Homo sapiens: one gene and its partners. The protein of the gene in region 3 purifies or fractionates together with the protein of the main gene of each other region. This does not show direct contact. Each region holds a gene or a part of one and is shown on either strand. Other genes may lie near its edges.

What was found. The genes of interacting proteins can lie anywhere in the genome.
Region 1: the proteins of HOXD4 (region 3) and ANKRD17 purify together in Homo sapiens (co-immunoprecipitation; 3 studies listed by BioGRID and IntAct, with this or other methods). This does not show direct contact.
Region 2: the proteins of HOXD4 (region 3) and ANKHD1 purify together in Homo sapiens (affinity purification with mass spectrometry, with the first as the bait; 2 studies listed by BioGRID). This does not show direct contact.

The regions. Positions count from the first base shown.
Region 1 is NC_000004.12:73,255,787-73,262,873, reverse strand, and holds the start of ANKRD17 (ankyrin repeat domain-containing protein 17), read left to right. Parts: upstream 1-4,075; 5' UTR 4,076-4,205; coding exon 4,206-4,598; intron 4,599-7,087.
Region 2 is NC_000005.10:140,397,185-140,404,844, forward strand, and holds the start of ANKHD1 (ankyrin repeat and KH domain-containing protein 1), read left to right. Parts: upstream 1-4,648; 5' UTR 4,649-4,783; coding exon 4,784-5,089; intron 5,090-7,660. Other genes in the region: ANKHD1-EIF4EBP3 protein, read left to right, coding at 4,784-5,089. UniProt on the Homo sapiens protein: May play a role as a scaffolding protein that may be associated with the abnormal phenotype of leukemia cells. Isoform 2 may possess an antiapoptotic effect and protect cells during normal cell survival through its regulation of caspases.
Region 3 is NC_000002.12:176,147,673-176,153,737, forward strand, and holds HOXD4 (homeobox protein Hox-D4), read left to right. Parts: upstream 1-3,877; 5' UTR 3,878-3,961; coding exon 3,962-4,394; intron 4,395-4,856; exon of another isoform or gene 4,857-4,935; coding exon 4,936-5,270; 3' UTR 5,271-5,554; downstream 5,555-6,065. UniProt on the Homo sapiens protein: Sequence-specific transcription factor which is part of a developmental regulatory system that provides cells with specific positional identities on the anterior-posterior axis.

The DNA of each region.
Region 1 (7,087 bases), on a different chromosome or scaffold from region 3:
TCACCCCCATCCCTGCAAACCCAATATATAGTGGTAACTCAGGGACAGATAACTATAATACATTCTCTCATTCAGAAAAAAAATGTGATACTGAGCAATACTATTCATGTATAATAATGATGAAATACTGCATAAACATTTTGCGGCCCATCTCCTTGAAACTGAAGAAAGTTCTGATGAAACTCCAATTCTAGTCTTCAGGAGAAACTCCCTGTCCAGTCTTTAGTACAGCTCCTTATACGAGCTTCTGAAATGTTCTTTTTTTGTCCATCATTCTCCATGGCCACATCCTGTGTGGGTACTGGGGAGCTGTTAAGGTTTTATGCTCTATTTTTCTACTTATGCAAGCTTGGGGTTGGACAGTTACCCTCTGTTTTAACACCCGAACAATGATATTTGAGCCAGATTTAGTATGATTAATAAAATTCCTCTAAAAATGTAGTCTTCTGATTGATTTGCTTCTGGTAACTACACCCAAAGTTCTTTCTTACATAATTATCAAGCCTAATTTACTGCTTTGCTGCCTTGCTCCTATGCCAGTTCCTTTAGACCTTTATCGTAGCTATCTTGAAGCCATCTAAAATAATGACTTTGAATGGAAAGACCAAACCCTTTTCCTGATCTTTGTTGCAGGACTTAATCTCAAGGGTAACTATACTCAAGACCTCTTCTAGTTTTTTTTTTTTTTTTATTAGAAGTCTTATAAAAGTCAACTTTTCCAACCCTTCCTGAGAAATATTCCTGTACACTCTCACTTCTGTGAAGTATTTCCTGAGTTTCTCTCTTTAGTAAAACCTTACTAAAAGTAAAATGTAAAATTCAACACAGTATTACTTTTGCTCTTTTCAATCATTTCCTCTGGAGCTAATCTAAACAGATAGGTGATCTGATTTTGAATTATTTCAGGTGACAGTTTTACTAATTACTTTGCCACTGCAAACATGGGCCTCCTTTTTCTAGCCTCCAAATCACATTCTCTACCACCTGCTGCATCATAAATAAGCTGATGTAACATATTTTAGGTTATTGTTTTAGCAGTACTCCACTTCTTGTACCAATTTCTGGACTAGCTATGGTCATTCTAGCTCCTATACATATAAATTCTCAAATCTCAATTTTTTCTCTTACAGTAAGTGCAAAAAGGGGTGTTTCTAATTGGGGTGGCTGTCTTCCAAGTACTGTTTCAGCCACTCATTCTTCTCTTTTCTGGCTTTGGCATCTCCAATACATAGTTTTGAAGGTCACCATGCTCAAAGGCATCAAGTTGACGAAGAAAGAGTAAGGGAGAATAGGAGGACTTCATTAACCCTAAAAATGAGCACATCATTTCCATTCATATTTAATTGGCTAGAAGTTAATCACGGCCAGGCTCGGTGGCTCACGCCCGTAATCCCAGCACTTTGAAAGCCGAGGTGGGGGAATCACCTGAGGTCGGGAGTTCGAGACCAGCCTGACCAACATGGAGAAACCGTGTCTCTACTAAAAATACAAAATTAGCCGGGTGTGATGGCACATGCCTGTAATCCCAGCTACTTGGGAGGCTGAGGCAGGAGAATCGCTTGAACACGGGAGGCGGAGGTTGCGGTGAGCTGAGATTGTGCCATTGCATTCCAGCCTGAGCAACAAGAGCTAAACTCTGTCTCAAAAAAAGAAGTTCATCACATGACTATAACCAACTACAAGGAAAGCTGTGAAATTTAGTTTAGCTGTGTGCCCGGGAAGAAGAAATAAGTTTCATGGGCTAGTCAGTCCCTGCCAGAGGTTCTAACGGGGGGAAAAAAAGATAAAAATAAAAGAAAGTGACTTTACATGCCTTGTCCATTTTAATAGTTTTGAACCTTATCCTACTAGTGAAACAGGATCATCATTTCACTATTATATTAAAGAACAAAAAACTCATTTTCTTCCAAACAATGAGATTACTTTAAAGAGAGCATTTTTGGTAGCACAGCACGATAGACACAGAGACTAGACTGCAGAGGGCTGACAAGTCAATTTCAGAAAACAAAAAAGACACTGATTGTAGACACTTTTTTTTTGAGATGGAGTCTCGCTCTGTCGCCCAAGCTAGAGTGCAGTAGCAGGATCTCAGCTCACTGCAAACTCCGCCTCGCAGGTTCAAGCGATTCTCCTGCTTCAGCCTCCTGAGTATAGAATACTTTTTAAAGAAAGAAAGTTTGCTTGTGAAGGAAATAATTGAAAGCTACAGAAGAATTAGCTAAGGAACCAGAATTTGTAGAAGGTTGACAACAGAAAAGATAATAAATGCATGAGAAAGAGGGGTATTGGAACTAGAATATGTATGAAGAGTTTATCTCATATATGAACAGGGAGTCTCTCATTCGTTGATACTGGAGAAAAGGCAATCTCAGGAAATTTCTAGCACTTGGAAAATTGTGAAGTCTAAGTTAAAAGTCATATAATAAAATGGGCTGGGATTTAAAGATTGCGAAAAGTATTCAAGTGGAAAGGGAGAAAAAGATGCTGAAGAATATACAAAGTAGGAGGGAGGGATGCAGCTGAAATTATAAAATCTAAATCAGTAGTGGTGAGATACACAATGCAGTGCTCTGTTCTACACTGGAACTCAGCAACGACTGTAGGAGAGGAATAGGCAGATGGTTACCACTCCGTATATATATTTACTATAGCACTTATTACACTGTAAAGCCCCTGGAAACAAGAGACTTTGATTCCACAAATTATGCGCACAGTAGGCACATGATGAATTTTTGTTTGAATGAATTGATTTAGTCATTGCCAATTCTGCCTTGGTACTCTGTAGAGTACTGGCAACTGCCCACATTTCATATGGTATGCCAATGCTAAAAAGAAAAAAAATGCTAAAAAAAAAAAAAATCCAGGCATATTCAGCTAAACTAAGCAGTCTTAAAATGGCAACTATGTCAGCTGAGACATACTTTTAATCTTGTGCCAGTACATCTGTCTTTGATGTTTGCTTCATTTTCCGTATGCCACTATACTCCTACTAGACCAGAAAGGGATAATTCTGAGTTCAATGGGCTCCACTATCATTTCAAAAGTCCTGAAACTTCTTCAGACACCTAAAAATGAACCCACAACTCCCATAACAGCATTCCTTCCGAGAGAAGTATACAGACAACAATCACTATTTATGCTTGCTTCCAAGCTGAATCGAAGAGGGCCGGAAGAGCTAAATCAGGGTCATTCAGTGAATCGTCTACAAAGTCTGGCACAGACCACGCATCCTTCCCGTGTCTTCCTCCCCTTGGAAACTTGAGGTGTAAGTAATGATCTTAGACATCTCCTAATCGACTGCCTTCATATTACACACGTGTAAACTCAGGTAGAGGATGTCTATGAGCCGAGCTTAAACTCAGGTAAAGAAGGCTCTTTTCCCAACACGACGCCATCTCTCATGATCCAAAGCTCTATCTCTCGATTTGGCGGTGGAAAAAAATGACCAGGAATAAAACTACGTACAGCAGTCCAGAACGAGGCCCCACCTCCCGGATCTGGCGGACCGGCCTCCCGTCAGCAAAGTGTCTGGACCGCGCTTCCGCACCTCACACTGCCCGGGGCCGGCTCCTCTCCAGCCTCCCCGTACTCCCCACACGCCGCAGCACTGCGCGCCCGCGGGGCCCCAGACCCGGCCCTTGAAATCTCACTTTCGCCTTTCGGCCACCCGCGCGCCACGGCTCAGGCGACGGCTGATGGCGTCACTGCACTTCCGCCTGCGGCTGCGTTCTAATCACAAGCCAGGAAGGAAGAAGGGAGGGCTGCAGGGCTGTGTGTGCGGGAAATAGCGAGGAAAGAGAAGAAATCCGGGAGCTCGCGGGCGCTCTGGTTGCAATCGCGCCCCCCTCATCTGTCCCCGCCGTTCCCCTTCGGAAGCTGCCCCAGGCACACTTCCCCGCTTCTTTCCAGTCTCCTCTCCTCTGGTTCTCCCGACACCCGGTCTCCCTGTTACGCCTCACCCTCCTTCCCTTGCTCCCTCCCTCTCCCTCCCTCCCTCCCTCCCATCGTCAGGCTCCCCGCCCTTAGTATCGCGAGACGAGGTGAGAGCTGGCGGAGCGGCGGCGGCGGCGGCGGCAGTAGAGGTGACCGAGGCGGTGGCGGCGGAGGCGGCACCGATTGCTGTGTCGGCCCCAGTGCGGCCGAAGTCGCGGTAGAGCGTAGCCCCACGCCCCTCCCCCGTCCGCGCCCTCCCTCTTTCCCTGGGGATGGAGAAGGCGACGGTTCCGGTGGCGGCGGCGACGGCTGCAGAAGGAGAAGGGAGCCCCCCGGCGGTGGCGGCTGTGGCGGGCCCCCCCGCGGCGGCGGAGGTCGGCGGCGGCGTTGGCGGCAGCAGCAGAGCTCGCTCGGCCTCGTCTCCTCGTGGGATGGTGCGAGTCTGCGACCTGCTCCTGAAGAAGAAGCCGCCGCAGCAGCAGCACCACAAGGCCAAGCGTAACCGGACTTGCCGACCCCCCAGCAGCAGCGAAAGCAGCAGCGACAGCGACAACAGCGGCGGCGGTGGAGGCGGCGGTGGAGGCGGAGGTGGCGGCGGCGGCACCAGCAGTAACAACAGCGAGGAAGAAGAGGACGACGACGACGAGGAAGAGGAGGTTTCTGAGGCAAGGGCCTGGTTTCAAAGGAAGGAGGGAGGAAGGGACTGTAAGGGATAGGGGCCGAAGGTGGGAGGGGATTTGGAGTGGGACAGATTCCAGTGGGTTGATCTCTTAGGGGCCAGGCTTTCGACTGCCCCCTTTCTTCCCTCGGCCTAAATCGTGAGGTGTGGGAATGTGGGGGAGGGTAGCTGACACGTGGGGGTGGGAGGACCACGGAGTTCACAGAGTTGGTGAACAGCCTGTTATCATGGGATGGCTCACTTGGTTAAGGATGGAGGGAATTGGTTAGATTCCCTGTTTGCACGCCGGGGGGTGGGGGGGTGGTCTGCCTGGGGCCAGTAGGGCCACCTTAGTCTGAGGCGGGATCGGGATCAAAGCGGGAGGAGTAAAATAATGGGTAAATGAGTCTCTTGGGGACCAACTAGGAGGTTGATCAACTTCTCCCAGTTGTGAGGTGGAGGGGAGCAGTTTGAGGGGGGACGTAAGGTTGTAATGGACTCAGAGCTAAGTGTTTGTGTATGTGAGGGACACGTGAGAAGCTGTACTTTTCCATACTGTTCTGCAGGGTTTTTCGTAACTATCCTGGCTGCTGAAGTAACTTCATTTCCTCGATCTCCCAGGGATTTTCGATGAACTGATGCTGTATTTGTATAAATTTATCAGTAACTTTAAATAATTACAAATGACCATATACATTTGTAAGTGGATGAAAAATATATTTGATCCTTACACGTACATACATACATGCCTTCGAATGTTTCCTTAGTGAGTTAGAATTAAGCTAGGACCTGTTGTCCCGTAATATGGGACAGCCAAAGGGTAGGCTTTGGAGCCAGGCCTGGTTGTGGTGAGTTGGAATAGGAAGGCCTCTCGGTTTGTCCTAGTGATCTGGTTTCATAATAACTTTATAATTTTTCCTGGGTCCACAGACAGGCGGCGTTGCAGGACCTTATTCCTCACAGAAGCCCTTACAACCCAAAGGCTCAGTAAAACATACCATACTGACAACCAACTGAGAGTTAGCTTTACTAGTTATTAGCTGTTTTACCACTCTCTTGTCTCCTTCCTGAAATAGAATCTAGAAAAATCTTTATTTGGAGAGGGAAATCTTTATCAGCAGAGGGAAAACAGCTTTAAAGGCTGATTTTAAACTTAGTTCTAAGAGGAGACCAAGTGATTCATCTAAAAGTACCACTTACTATTTATTCTCTTCCACAAACATGGAACTTATTTTGATGCAAGTCTGGTTTTCCGAAAATTGGAATTATTGAATCCTGGTCTCTGTTGAAATAGAGAAGTACCTTTTAAAGGATTTGACACATGTCTATTTGTAGAAGACCAGATTCTCTTTTATCTCAGACTGGATGAAGTTGTATAGGTAGAGATATTAAGTGCTGAAGTATGTATGACAAAAATATGCCAGTCCTTGTTTTTATTCCCTTTTAGCCTGTTGGATTCTGAGAATAGGTTTGTATTGATAGACTTATATTGGCCTACTTGGATGTTTAGGATAGTGTGTTGCTCTGGCGGCATTTGAAACAAGGAAGAGAAAGATGTAATGGGGTCCTTATCCCTAATAAAATTTGTTATGGTACTTAGAATCATTCAATTGTATGATTCTTCTCAAAGGTGAGAAACATTTTACAGGTAATTCAGCCCTTTATTTTAAAAAGGAGGAAAACAAGGTTTAGAGGAAAGTGGTTGTGGTGGGTAGTAGCAAAAGTACAAATCAAAGTTTTCTAATGTCTCAGACCTGTACACTTTTTAATAATAATTTATTTCCTTTTATCACCCTCCTGATATCATTCAGAAAAATAGTTACTGAATAGCAAGGTAACACAATCATGCAGCTATAGGCAAAATACCATTACTTAAAATTTTAAATTCTCGTGAAACTATTAAGCTCTGGTTTAGAGCAAGGTTATGATAGTTGAATGCAGTACTTACTGGGATATTCTGCTGCAAACTTAACATACCTAGGTAGTTTTGTCCATTGGAATGCGGCCTAATAAGCAGAACTTTTAGTAATTCCTTAAATCATGAAGAATGGCTGTAAGTTTGTAGGTATGTTTATTTTGTGGGTCAGGTTTGTTTTCCTTTTGTAATATAGGAATGGTTATGTTGACTTTCACCAACTATGGTAGTATTTCTATGTTTTTAACATACCTTATCCTGTCTTTTACATGGTGTTAAACAATGGGTTTGTCATTTATGAAGATGAGTCAGGAGAAATACGTGTAAGAAAGTGTGCCCATTGGCCGGGCGTGGTAGCTCACGCCTGTAATCCCAGCACTTTGGGAGACCGAGGCGGGCGGATCACCTGAGGTCAGGAGTTTGAGACCAGCCTGGCCAACATGGTGAAACCCCATCTCTACTAAAAATACAAAAAAATTAGCCGAGTGTGGTGGCAGATGCCTGTAATCTCAGCTACTTGGGAGGCTGAGGCAGGAGAATTGCTTGAACCCGGGAGGTGGAGGTTGCAGTGAGCTGAGATT
Region 2 (7,660 bases), on a different chromosome or scaffold from region 3:
GGGATTACAGGTGTGAGCCACCGTGCCCGGCCATGTGTTTTTTATCCTTCTTGATCTGAAAGATGGTCAAAACACAGTGCTTTGAAACACATTATAAGTAGATTCTAAATAGTCCCACTGGCTTTTTTTTCTTCTTTATTCCATAGAGACTCAAAATTCCCAATGCTTACTATATTTCAAGGCCATGGCAGGTTATTGGGAAAAGTTTTCAATTAGCAATAATGATGCCTTTGGCTATGATACTGCCACTGAGCAAATCTCCACTCCATTTTTTTTCTTGAGACAGAGTCTCGCTCTGTCACCCAGGCTGGAGTGCAATGGCGTGTTCTCAGCTCACTGCAACCTCTGCCTCCCAGATTCAAGCGATTCTCCTGACTCAGCCTCCTGAGTAGCTGGGATTACAGGTGCGTGCCACCACGCCCAGCTAATTTTTGTATTTTTAGTAGAAATGGGGTTTCGCCATGTTGATCAGGCTGGTCTCGAACTCCTGACCTTGTGATCCACCCGCCTCAGCCTCCCAAAGTGCTGGGATTACAGGCATGAGACCCCACACCCAGCCCAATTTTTGTATTTTTAGTAGAGACAGGATTTCACCATGTTGGCCAGGATGGTCTTGAACTCCTGACCTCAAGTGATCCACCCACCTCAGCCTCCCAAAGTGCTGGTATTACAGGCATGAGCCACCATACCTGGCCTGAGTGTGATTTTATTTATTTGTCAAATGTATCACTTGATATTGTGATGATTTATCAATGAGTTTTCAAATTTTAAAACCATAGGAATGTAGTATATATGGAACTATTGAATCACATTTTCTTTCTTTCTTTTTTTTTTTTTTTCGAGACAAAGTTTCACTCATGTTGCCCAGGCTGAAGTGCCGTGGTGTGATCTTGGCTCACTGAAACCTCTGCCTCCCAGGTGCAAGCAATTCTCCCGCCTCAGCCTCCTGAGTAGCTGGGATTATAGGCGCCCACCACCACGCCTGGCTAATTTTTTGTATTTTTAGTAGAGACGGGGTTTCATCATGTTGGCCAGGCTGGTCTGGAACTCCTGACCTCGGGTGATCCACCCACCTTGGCCTCCCAAAGTACTGGGATTACAGGCGTGAGCCACCATGCCCAGCCATTAAATCACATTTAATAGAGATTCTATATAGCAGTCACCAAAATATAGGAGACTAGGAGTTCCTAATTCCCATACTGACTGTCAAACTACTGACAAGTATCTCAAGTAAAGGTCCTGGTGAAACAAAGATTATTGCTCAATCACATTTCTTTAGCTATACTCAGGGTTAGTTGCTAGGCACTGAGTAAAGAGAGTGTTTTCTTCCCTCTCAAATAAATTGAGAAAAATGTATATATATCCAGATTTCCTTTCCCTGTGTCCTTGAGAGTCATTGTATTTGTTTAAAGAATTTAATGAGTTTGTTCAGGGAGTTGCATCAGAAATTATTTTTGTATCAGTAGTAAGCATGACAACTAGTTCCTTTGTAATGCTGTACCAGTCAATACCTGTTTTTGCCTAAGGATGTATCCATACCAATTCTGGATAATCCAGCTTTGAAGTGGGTTGGGCAGTGCCAGGTTTCTTTTGTTGGTGTTATTAGTTTGGGTTGTGACTTAGTCACACATGCCTTGAAAACTTAACAGCACTGAGGATATAGGCTAATTAAGTTCCACAAATGCTAACTAAAGCCAGTGTACATAGCATTTACATTAAAATAGTTCTCTAGAATAGGTACAAGACTTTTTTTTAACATTTTCTACAACTTATTTATTATCTAGAAAGAACATTTAACAAACATGTTCTGCTCATAGAAAACACTATCCTTTACATGTGAAATGTCAAAATGAGCAATTACTAAGCCAAAGAAATGTTTATGATATTCAAAATGTTTTTTAAATAAATGTTTGGCAGAATCAACTTTTAAAGTTATTTTAAAAATCATTATATTCTTATAAAATTTTAAGATCCCAGTTTAAGGATGACGAAATATTAAATATTGCACAGTTGAGATATATAAAGGCCTTTGTTAAAGTTGTAAGAGAGGAGAAAATGACTTTTTTTTTTTTTTTTTGAGACTGAGTCTTGCTCTGTCGCCAGGCTGCAGTGCAGTGGTGCGATCTCGGCTCACTGCAACCTCCGCCTCCTGGGTTCAAGCGATTCTCTTGCCTCAGCCACCCGAGTAGCTGGGATTACAGGCACGCGCCGCCACACTTGGCTAATTTTTGTATTTTTAGTAGAGACGGGGTTTCACCATGTTGGCCAGGATGGTCTCCATCTCCTGACCTCGTGATCCGCTCACCTCTGCCTCCCAAGGTGCTGGGATTACAGGTGTGAGCCACTGCGCCCGGCCATTTTTTTTTTTTTCAGCCAAATTCTGTTATCATATGGACATTCTCTGGGTCAAAGGATATTTTCCATACAAACCACCAGACTCCTTTTTTGGTCATGTCTGATTAAAGGATTAGATAGAAACCGTTTTTTTTTTATTTTTTTAATTTTTTTAGACAGGGCACCGCTCTGTTGCTCAGGCTGGAGTTCAGTGGCACGATCTCGGCTCACTGCAACCTCCATCTCCCAGGCTCAGGGGATCCCTCCCACCTCAGCCTCCTGAGTAGCTGGAATTACAGGCATGCACCACCATGCTCGGCTAATTTTTTTTTTTTTTTTGAGACGATGTGTTGCTCTGTCGCCTAACCTGGAGTGCAGTGGCACGATCTTGGCTCACTGCAAACTTCGCCTCCTGGGTTCAAGTGATTCTCCTGCCTCAGCCTCCCGAGTAGCTGGGATTACAGGCACGCACCATCACATCTGGCTAATTTTTGTATTTTTAGTATAGACGGGGTTTCGCCATGTTGGCCAGGCTGGTCTAGAACTCCTAACCTCAAATGATCCGCCCACCTAGGCCTCCCAAAGTGCTGGGATTAACAGGCGTGAGTCACCGCGCCGAGCCCAATTTTTGTATTTTTGGTAAAGACGGGATTTCACCATGTTGCCTAGGCTGGGCTCGAACTACTGGGTTCAAATGATCCGCCCGCCTCAACATCCCATAGTGTTGGGATTACAGGCGTGAGCCACGGCGCCCGCTATAGAATCTGAATATTTTTAACCCCCCTCTTTACTGACAAGATAAAGACAGAGATAGAGAGATGCATATAGGGAGGAAGAGATCTCCTTAGAGGAGGGAAGACCACCACAGCTAGCCTTGTTTTGCACCACACAGATCTGATTAGAACTAGAATTAGTTGGGCTGGCAGGACCCAGGGGCGAGCAGAGAGTTCCTGAAGGAAGAGGAGACAATAACTAGCAAAAATGAGTCTTTCCTGTAAGTTTGGGACTTTGCTAAGCGCTATATTATCATCTAATTTATTCATAACAACAACCCAATGAGGAAGGTACTAATATTACTCCCATTTCACAGAGGAGCGAGTTGAAAGTCACAAAAATGAAACAGCAAACGCGCCGAAGTCAGGCAGCAAGTAAGTGGCAGCACCAGAACTCGAAACTGCCTCGGAGCATGCACTCTTCACCACCCCGTTCCACCTTGAGGTCGGATTCCGCACGCCGTTCGCGGCATTCCCACCTTCCTACGTGGGACAGTTCCCGGTACTGAGGCATGGCGCTGTCCAGCCCTCAGGCCCGCAGCCGTCCGCAAGCAGGAGAACGCGGCCCCGCTGGGCGATCCTGCCCGAAGGCGCCCGAACTGCGGCGCGCGGCCGGGTCCTGGCGGGCGGGTCGAGTCTCCCCAAGGCGGCCATCCCAAGCAGCTCCCCGGATGTCCCTCAGACCCGCGCGCTAGGCTCAACTCAGAAAGGCGGGAGGCGCGAAGCGAGATCGGCCTTGCCCCTCGACTGTCCCCTCATCGCTCCCCGTCCTCTATTCCCTCCCAAATAGCCCCCGGCAAATAGGTTACACATCTTCACCTGTCCCAGAGGTGGTGACTGCTCTAGTGACTGACGCTACGCTCCTCCAACCAGGCAATGGCAGGAAGGTGGAGCCTTCCTAAGACTGATGGCTTCCTTTCTCCAATCCCGGTGCAGCTATTCTCCGGCCATAGTCTCGGCGCCCAGCGGAGAGCGACAGGTGGGAGCTGCGTTACTTCGGCGCCTCTTGCATCCTTGACGTAGAAGTTTCACCAAGCGCAGGGTGAAGTCTACTCCAAATTTGACCAATTCTTGCGGGTCATCACTTCAGCAGTCATTTTATTCAGAAGTGGAAATTTCCCGGCCCTTTCCCGTCACCTCAGATGAGGGCGGGATCAATGGTACTCCCACAGGCCAATTGTACCACGCGACGTCCCGCGACAAAGTGACCGACACTTTATGGCGCCAATGAATTCTCCCATTGTTCGGGGTCACTATGACTGACCACAAGGCCAACTAATCCACTTTAAGGTCGTGACGCGATAGTCAGGCGGGTTGGCCAATAGACATAGGAAAAGAGCGGAAGTCAGCTGGTGAAGAGTGGGAGGCGGGTGTTCGCAACCGCCTAGGCCTGCGCGGGTCAACGCAGCTTGGCGGCTGCGAGCCAGCGAGCGGCGCGTGACGAAGAGCCTGAGCGACGGGTCACTTTGGCCAATGATCTGCAGCCGCCAGGGTATTGCAGCCAGTGGCGAGTCGAGGGGGCGGGAGGCAGCAGGTTAGGCAGTGAGAAGTTAGTGGCGCTGCTGGGACGGGGGAAAGGAGACGCTTCTTCCTCTTGCTGCTCTTCTCGTTCCCGAGATCAGCGGCGGCGGTGACCGCGAGTGGGTCGGCACCGTCTCCGGCTCCGGGTGCGAACAATGCTGACTGATAGCGGAGGCGGCGGCACCTCCTTTGAGGAGGACCTGGACTCTGTGGCTCCGCGATCCGCCCCAGCTGGGGCCTCGGAGCCGCCTCCGCCGGGAGGGGTCGGTCTGGGGATCCGCACCGTGAGGCTCTTTGGGGAGGCCGGGCCAGCGTCGGGAGTCGGCAGCAGCGGCGGCGGCGGCAGCGGCAGCGGTACGGGCGGAGGGGACGCGGCGCTGGATTTCAAGTTGGCGGCTGCCGTGCTGAGGACCGGGGGTGGAGGTGGTGCCTCTGGCAGTGACGAGGACGAAGTGTCCGAGGTAAGGCTCCGGGACCCTCGCCTCCCACACATTGTGAGGCGTGAATTCTCTTTGGGTAGGCTCTGGGCCGGGGCCATCCTCCCGCTTCCCTGGTGGAGCCCTTCTGTGACAGCGGTCGGCTCCATGGCGGCGGTGGCCGCGGTGAGGGCCTAGTGAGCCCTCGGCTTACTCTTTAGCTCGAGCGGGACAGGTTCCCGTCACCATTCGTAGACCCACAATAGGGAGTCCTTTGGTCTCTGAGCTTCGCGCGGGAACAGGGACTCCTCAGGCTGCCTCCCGCCCACCCTGCTTTGGAGTTGGGGGTGGGGGGCGGGGTCTTGCCAGAGTCCCTGCCCTTGGTACTGAGAGAGACAAACAGAGACAGAGACAGAGCTGGTGCAAAGATCGTTTCTCTTCTTTGCCTCTCCTCAGAGTTGAGGGATACGTTTATTTGCCTTCTGCCTTGTGTGTGTCTTACCTGTGTGCTTAAGGACGGTTCTTATTCTCCCTCTTCAGTTTGAGACAGGTTTGAGTATTAGGGATCTCTCGGCTTTTACCCTGAAAAATCACGTGACTCCTCCTTCTGGGACCTTTTGTGAAGTTAGACAGGAAAAGGAAGTTCCAGGGCATCCCTGAGCTTCGGAATAGCTGGGTAGCTGAACTCGGAGGTTTTAGGCTTGGAGAAAGTGGGGCAACCTGTGGAAACCTCTTCTTTTTTTTTTTTTTTTTTTTTTTTTTGAGATGGAGTTTCGCTCTTGTTGTCCACGCTAGAATACACGTGATCTCAGCTCACTGCAACCTCCGCCTCCCGGGTTCAAGCGATTCTCCTGCCTCAGCCTCCCGAGTAGCTGGGATTACAGGCGTGCGCCACCACGCCCGACTAATTTTGTATTTTTATTAGATACGGGGTTTCACCATGTTGGTCAGGCTGGTCTCGAACTCCTGACCTCAGGTGATCCGCCCGCCTCGGCCTCCCAAAGTGCTGGGATTACAGGTATGAGCCACCGTGCCCGGCTGGACACCTTCACTCTGCCTTTGCAGTGAAGTCCTTCATTTCTTTAACTCTTCTGTGTGTACTCTAATGTGTACACATTTTTAGGTCTGAGCAACCTGGGATGGTAGGCATTAACTTCTTTTGGGTTCTGGGGAAAAAGGGGCGGGTTTTGTTTTTGTTTTTTGAGATGGAGTTTCGCTCTGTCGCCAGGCTGGAGTGCAGTGGCGCGATCTCGGCACACTGCAACCTCCGCCTCCTGGGTTCAAGCGATTCCCCTGCCTTAGCCTCCTGAGTAGCTGGGACTACAGGCGCGTGCCACCACTCCCGGCTAATATTTTGTATTTTTTAGTAAAGACAGGGTTTCACCATGTCCAGGATGGTCTCGATCTCCTGACCTTGTGATCCCAAGGGGCGGTATTTTATGTGTATACTTTTTTCTGTTGACTGTGGCTTGCGTAGAGTACTGTACCGTGATTGTTTTAAGTGCTCAGAGTATTTCTTCTATTTTGGTTCTGAGGTGCCTGAGTTGTCACCTGTGACCAGTTATTTTAACCTCTGGTCTTGGTGTTAAAGTACAGGAATTTCTCTGTGTGTACTAACAATCCCGGCTCTTGGATTTGAGAGGAATAAGGAGAAATTATTTGTGGGTTACAGACTGCAGTTAGTATACTGTCTTATCATTCTAGGTCTGAACAGGGTTTTATTTAATATTTAAAACCTTAGTACATTCTGACCCTAACATTTTGCTTTGGAAAAAAAAGTGTGTGGGTTATAAGGCGGGTAGTCCCTTGAATGTCTACGTCTTTGAATTTCACGGTAAGGGAAATAACTTCTAAGCCAAGGTGAGAGAAATGTTTTATTTGAGTAGGCAGTTATGGGGAGAGACTCTGGAGTATCCCTGCTCTTGGTCTTGTGGAAGGCTTTATTTTATCCTTTCAGTGAAACGTGAGAGATTAAGCTAGAACACAGTACTTTTTAGCTAGGAAATGAAGTGTGGGGGATATCCTTAGACTAAAGATTAGAGCTTATTTTCTATGAAACTTGTAAATGAGAATCTGAAAGAGTTTGCTTTGGTCTAAATGTGATAGAAAAAGGGGACCTTGATTTTCTTGACCATTTTTACATAATTGTCATGGGTGAGATGAAAGGTCACTCATTTGCCTTTTTTTTTAATTTTAATTTTTTGTTTTTTTTGTTTTTTTTGAGACTGTGTCTTGCTCTTGTCACCCAGGCTGGAGTGCGGTGGCTCGATCTTGGCTCACTGCAACCCCCGTCTCCCAGGTTCAAGCTATTTTCCTGCCTCAGCCTCCCTAGTAACTGGGATTCCAGGTGCCTGCTACCACGACTGGCTAATTTTTTTGTATTTTTAGTAGAGACGAGGTTTTACCATGTTGGCCAGGTGGGTCTCAAACTCCTGACCTCAGGTGATCGCCCTCTCAGAGTGCTGGGATTACAGGCATGAGCCACCACGCCCGGCCTTAATTTTTTTTTTTTTTTTGAGACAGGTTTTGCTATGTTGTCCAGGCTAGCCTCAAACTCCTGGGCTCGGGTGGTCCTCCTACCTCAGCCTCCTAAGTAGCTGGGACTATAGGCACACG
Region 3 (6,065 bases):
CGAATCGCGAAGAGACGGTACTGATCGCGGGGAAGTGGTGGGCTAAGGGGCCAAGCCAGCGGAGTGGGCGGATAGAAGAAAGGCCCTGCCTCCCCCACCCCACCCCCACCCTCCACCCCCGGCCTCGCTCTGCGAGGTTAGCCCGCTTCGGGAGGTGGAGGCGCTAAATCGAGGTCCCGGAAAGCTTTTCTGGGGCCTGGTTCACAGACACCTGCCTGAGAGAACGGTCCGCGGGGTCTCGCCCTTGTCTCCTTGGGCCTCCCTAGACCTTCGCGGCCCTTCCCTGCTCTGCACAGGTGCAGCTCCGCCAAGGCGCTCACTTCTGTTAAGAGCTTGCTAATTAGCAGCCTGTCTTATTAGCGGCTTCAAACCAACGCAGTAAACACCAAGGCAATGCGGTCCCCTCCGCAGCCCAACCCTTCTTAACCTGGTCTAGCCTGGCCAACCTTCTGTTTTTAAAAAAATTCACTGAAAACAAAAACTCAATCCTCTGTGGCCGTGGGTGTGTTGAGTTGCCCGCTTCTGAGCTTTATGTGGACATTCCTTCCCCGCCCCTCCCCCGATCTGTTTGCAGCGGTGTGGGCCCTGGGCTTGGGACACTGGCTGAGCGAGGAGGGATACGGACCTTCTTTTCACCTCTGCTTCTCTGTAACTGCAGTTGGAGAATTTCCGCCCCAGAGGCGCTGGTGCTGCAAGGAGGCATAGGAGGGTGGAGTGGGGTGGATGCGGTGGGGTGGGGCCAGAGACTCGTGGGATCCTTGGCTTGGATGTTTGGATCTTTCTGAGTTGCCTGTGCCGCGAAAGACAGGTACATTTCTGATTAGGCCTGTGAAGCCTCCTGGAGGACCATCTCATTAAGACGATGGTATTGGAGGGAGAGTCACAGAAAGAACTGTGGCCCCTCCCTCACTGCAAAACGGAAGTGATTTTATTTTAATGGGAGTTGGAATATGTGAGGGCTGCAGGAACCAGTCTCCCTCCTTCTTGGTTGGAAAAGCTGGGGCTGGCCTCAGAGACAGGTTTTTTGGCCCCGCTGGGCTGGGCAGTCTAGTCGACCCTTTGTAGACTGTGCACACCCCTAGAAGAGCAACTACCCCTATACACCAGGCTGGCTCAAGTGAAAGGGGCTCTGGGCTCCAGTCTGGAAAATCTGGTGTCCTGGGGACCTCTGGTCTTGCTTCTCTCCTCCCCTGCACTGGCTCTGGGTGCTTATCTCTGCAGAAGCTTCTCGCTAGCAAACCCACATTCAGCGCCCTGTAGCTGAACACAGCACAAAAAGCCCTAGAGATCAAAAGCATTAGTATGGGCAGTTGAGCGGGAGGTGAATATTTAACGCTTTTGTTCATCAATAACTCGTTGGCTTTGACCTGTCTGAACAAGTCGAGCAATAAGGTGAAATGCAGGTCACAGCGTCTAACAAATATGAAAATGTGTATATTCACCCCGGTCTCCAGCCGGCTCAGCAGGCTCCCCCAATTTGTCTGGATAGAGCCTAGGCCCAGTGTCCCAGGAAGGTGGATACTTGGGAGTCTTTGGCATTCAGGGAAATTGGGGGGACTCTCCTGGGATAAACAGATTCTGCAGCCTCATAGCCCTTGTTAGAACTGGCGCCCCCAAAATCCCTACGAAACAGGTAAAGTGGTGGAAGCAAAGGATGGGGGGATGAGCAAAGTGCCAGGCTTGGAGGGGGAGTATCCCTGCCCCACCCCACCAGGCCCAGGCCCAGGCTTGAAACTAAATTTTGAATTATGTGGGAGGTAGGAAGGGCAATCAAGACAGTTAAAAAAAAATCTAACACCTTCAGCCTACAGTTAGGCACCCAAAAGCCCCACTCGAGCCAGGGCATCCCTGTGCCCCTGAAATCCATCGAGGCTCTGAGTGAGTCTGCGCTCTCCATGCCCTGAACTGAGGGACAAGCACTGCACAGTGCCGAGGCGCTGGGGCGGGTGAAATTTGTGAACTTTTGTACTCTTGTGTGCTGCTGTCGGCAAAGCAAAAATAATGAAAGTTTGTGATATGTTTGTAAATGATTTCGAATGACCCCTCGCCCTGCCCTTCACCATTAGCGCGCCGGCCTCAGCCCAAGGCGGCTCGGTGCCTGTGAGCAGCGCCTGCCTCGGGGTCTGCAGCAGCAGCGGAACGGAGAGGCCAGCCCGGATCAGGGCCCATGAAGGTAAATGCGCGACTTCTTGGAGAAGTAGCTTTGGCAGACAACCTGGCTTGGTCGGGCAGTAGGAAAAGGAGTAGACACAGGATATTCCCCTCTCGCTTCTTTTTCTTCTGCCGCTGAGGGCATTTGTTCCTTTCTGGAAAATACCACTTGGTAAGGAGGAGGGTTATTTGGATCCTGGTGGGGGAGGGTGGTTAATAAAGCCGCCATCCTTGGGATGGATTATTTTTCTTTCTTTCTTTCTTTTTTTCTTTCTTAAGAAGAATATTCTGGTTGTTCGCCTGCTTGGTAACCCTGACCCTGGCAGAAGAATGAGGGAACTCATTGCTTCAAATTGTCGCCAAGCCCATTAGGCTACCTGAACTGTCTCAGAAAGTGCGGGTGGCTGCGTCGAACGGTGGTGGCTCAGAGGAAGAGATTGGGGCCGGCAGCGACCTAGGTACCTCACTCTGGGTGGGACCCAGAGGTTGTAACGTTGTCTATATATACCCTGTAGAACCGAATTTGTGTGGTATCCGTATAGTCACAGATTCGATTCTAGGGGAATATATGGTCGATGCAAAAACTTCACGTTTCTTCGGAATAGCCAGAGACCAAAGTGCGACATGGAGACTAGAAGCAGCCGGCGCTGGTCAGCCGCCTCGTTCTGTTTTATTACCTTGGACTCCAGGAGGATCAGCTGCGCCTGGTGACATAGAGCAGCTTTTCCTCTCCAGAAGCTCCTCACCTTTAAACAGAGTATCCTCTGGGTGCTGAAAAGAAAGAAAGACAGAAAGAGAGAAAGAGAGAGAGAGAGAGAAAGAGAGAATGCAAGCCTAATTGGTTGCATGGATGCAGGGCCAAAGGGCTAGGTTTTGGGGTACTAGGGAGTGAGGTACAAGGCCAGCTTGCCCAGTCCCAGCTCTGCCCTCCAGGAACATGAGGTGCAAAGGTACCCAAATGGGGGCTTGCTTGTATTTGGGGCCTGTGGGAAGAAAGCAAGCTTCAAAGAAGCCCAGTGGGGAGCTCTAGGGTGCATTTTGACAAGGTGGAGGTGCCCTTGCCACCATCCCAGCCCACCCCCAGCTACATGGGCAAGGGCAGCGAGGGCCCCCTGCTATTTTGGCAGGGCCCAGCTTTGGCTGGGAACCCCCGGGCCTGGGCACTGGTAGAAAGCATGGCGGTTACTCATTGCCTAATTTGATTCAAGCTGGCCAGATTCTGGTAACTTTTGGGTGACCCTGATGAAGACAAAGCCAGGACGGCGGCCTTTGTATGGCAGAATCCCTGCTCCCGCCGGCTGCAGGCAGGGCGGGCAGGCAGGAACCCTCCTCGCCTGGGGCACTCTGCCCAACTCAGAGGCGAGTTCACCCACCCACCTTTCATTGCTCTGTACCCCAATAGGAGGATTCATTCTCCCTTGAGCTGTGCCTACTTGGTGTCGGGGGGCGGGGGTTGCATTCAGCTGGGGGTGAGTGGAAGGGCCACGGAAGGTTGGCAAAATCAGTGGCAGACAAAAGCTGGGATTACCTGAGGGGAATGGGGTGCTGGGGACTGGAACTACATTAATATCTGGCAGGGGCTCTCAAATGTGCCATAGCAAGCTACTTGATTACACGTATGTTATTTAGTTAAATTTGTGAAAATTATGAGATGCTCACCAACCCGGTGATAAACTTGCTCCCTCGCCATTGGCTGGCCTGGTCACATGGCTGCCCAACTTTATTCAGTTGACAGCAAGTAGGAGGGCCCTATGGAAGGAGAAAAAAAGACAACACGAGAAAAATTAGTATTTTCTACCTTCTGAAATTAATGGTCATGAGTTCGTATATGGTGAACTCCAAGTATGTGGACCCCAAGTTCCCTCCGTGCGAGGAGTATTTGCAGGGCGGCTACCTAGGCGAGCAGGGCGCCGACTACTACGGCGGCGGCGCGCAGGGCGCAGACTTCCAGCCCCCGGGGCTCTACCCACGGCCCGACTTCGGTGAGCAGCCTTTCGGAGGCAGCGGCCCCGGGCCTGGCTCGGCGCTGCCTGCGCGGGGTCACGGACAAGAGCCAGGCGGCCCCGGCGGTCACTACGCCGCTCCAGGAGAGCCTTGCCCAGCTCCCCCGGCGCCTCCGCCGGCGCCCCTGCCTGGCGCCCGGGCCTACAGTCAGTCCGACCCCAAGCAGCCGCCCTCCGGGACGGCACTCAAGCAGCCGGCCGTGGTCTACCCCTGGATGAAGAAGGTGCACGTGAATTCGGGTAAGGCTAGGGTCCAGTAACCTTTCTGTCCACATCCCAGCCCGTTAGCCTGGGTCCTCTGGAAGGGGGTGCGAGTAGGTGGGGGCGTGTGGAGCTTCCATGGGCGCCGCAATTACTCTCCCCATAAATTTTTATAGCTGAGGGAGCAGGTCAGGACCATGTGGCTGGCTGCTCGGCTGTGGGCGCAAAAGGGGGTGGGGATGGGGGGGTGGGGGAGGACTCCATTTTCAGAGCAGGGGGAAGGCTGTGGAGGAGCGGGGGATTTCCAAAATGCTTGAGGGTTCCGGACCTGGTGGTGGGCCCAGAAGAAGGAGCACATTTGGGGATCCCGCAAGCCTGGGGTATGTGGGTGTGTTTGAGGAGGTGGGTGGGAGTGAGCGTGTGCGCCGGGGAGAGGGCGGGAGGGAGGAAGCAAGCGAGCTTGGGAGCGCGCGGGGAGGGCCGCGGGCCTCGGGGCGCGCCAGGAAGTGAGCGGCGGAGGCGAGGGGCCTAACTAGTGGCCGGGCGCTGACCTGCCTGTCCTGTCTGTTTTGTCTCGCAGTGAACCCCAACTACACCGGTGGGGAACCCAAGCGGTCCCGAACGGCCTACACCCGGCAGCAAGTCCTAGAACTGGAAAAAGAATTTCATTTTAACAGGTATCTGACAAGGCGCCGTCGGATTGAAATCGCTCACACCCTGTGTCTGTCGGAGCGCCAGATCAAGATCTGGTTCCAGAACCGGAGGATGAAGTGGAAAAAAGATCATAAGCTGCCCAACACTAAAGGCAGGTCATCGTCCTCATCTTCCTCCTCATCTTGCTCCTCCTCAGTCGCCCCCAGCCAGCATTTACAGCCGATGGCCAAAGACCACCACACGGACCTGACGACCTTATAGAAGTGGGGACCCTGGGCCCATCTCTCCCTGCGCACCAGGCTGAGCCGAAGCTGCGGGGGCAGGCCGGGCCTGCTGTCACCTCGCTGGGCTCTAAGGTACTGTGGGGTGGACCTGGGACAAGCAGGCCGCCCTCGGACTAGGTTAGCATCCTGCCCGAGGGCAGCCCCCTCCCTAGAGCGGGATGGGGATGGGAGGGGGGGCGGGATTCTCTCTCTAAGTATATTATATGGCAGGAGCTACTGAGAACATAAAATCTTGGCGAGTCATTAAACTTATGAAAATCACCGCTCTTGGATTTTGAATTTGCAAATGAAGGTTGGATGCTTTATCCCACTGTGAATTTGGACATTCTCCCCCACTCCACCCCTCCAGGGTGCTTTGTGGCTTAATAATGTGGGGGAGTTGAGGCAGAAGGTTGGCCACCCCTGTGCTAGGTGCTTTCAGTGGAAGCCAGAGAGCTGGGTCAGGATTTCTGGACTTTCTGGGTTGTCTATGGAATTTCATGTGATTAAAAAATATATATTTTGCTCCCAGTGGCCCCACCTCCAAAGAAATGGGTCTAAGAAGGAAGTAAAAATGGGTTATTTTATGTTTAGATATTTGCTTAAATATTTATTTGTTGGGAAATGTGGTACAGAAATAACTGACACCTTCATGCCAAAAATCTTAAAAAGGTGAAAGGGGCTGAACTTCAGGGAGCAGAATCAGAGATATGTGCACTTACTTCTGAACTCCACCCCTCCCCACTCTCTGGAAATGTATATAGGGGGGCCTTAACCCTTCCAGAAGGAAGCA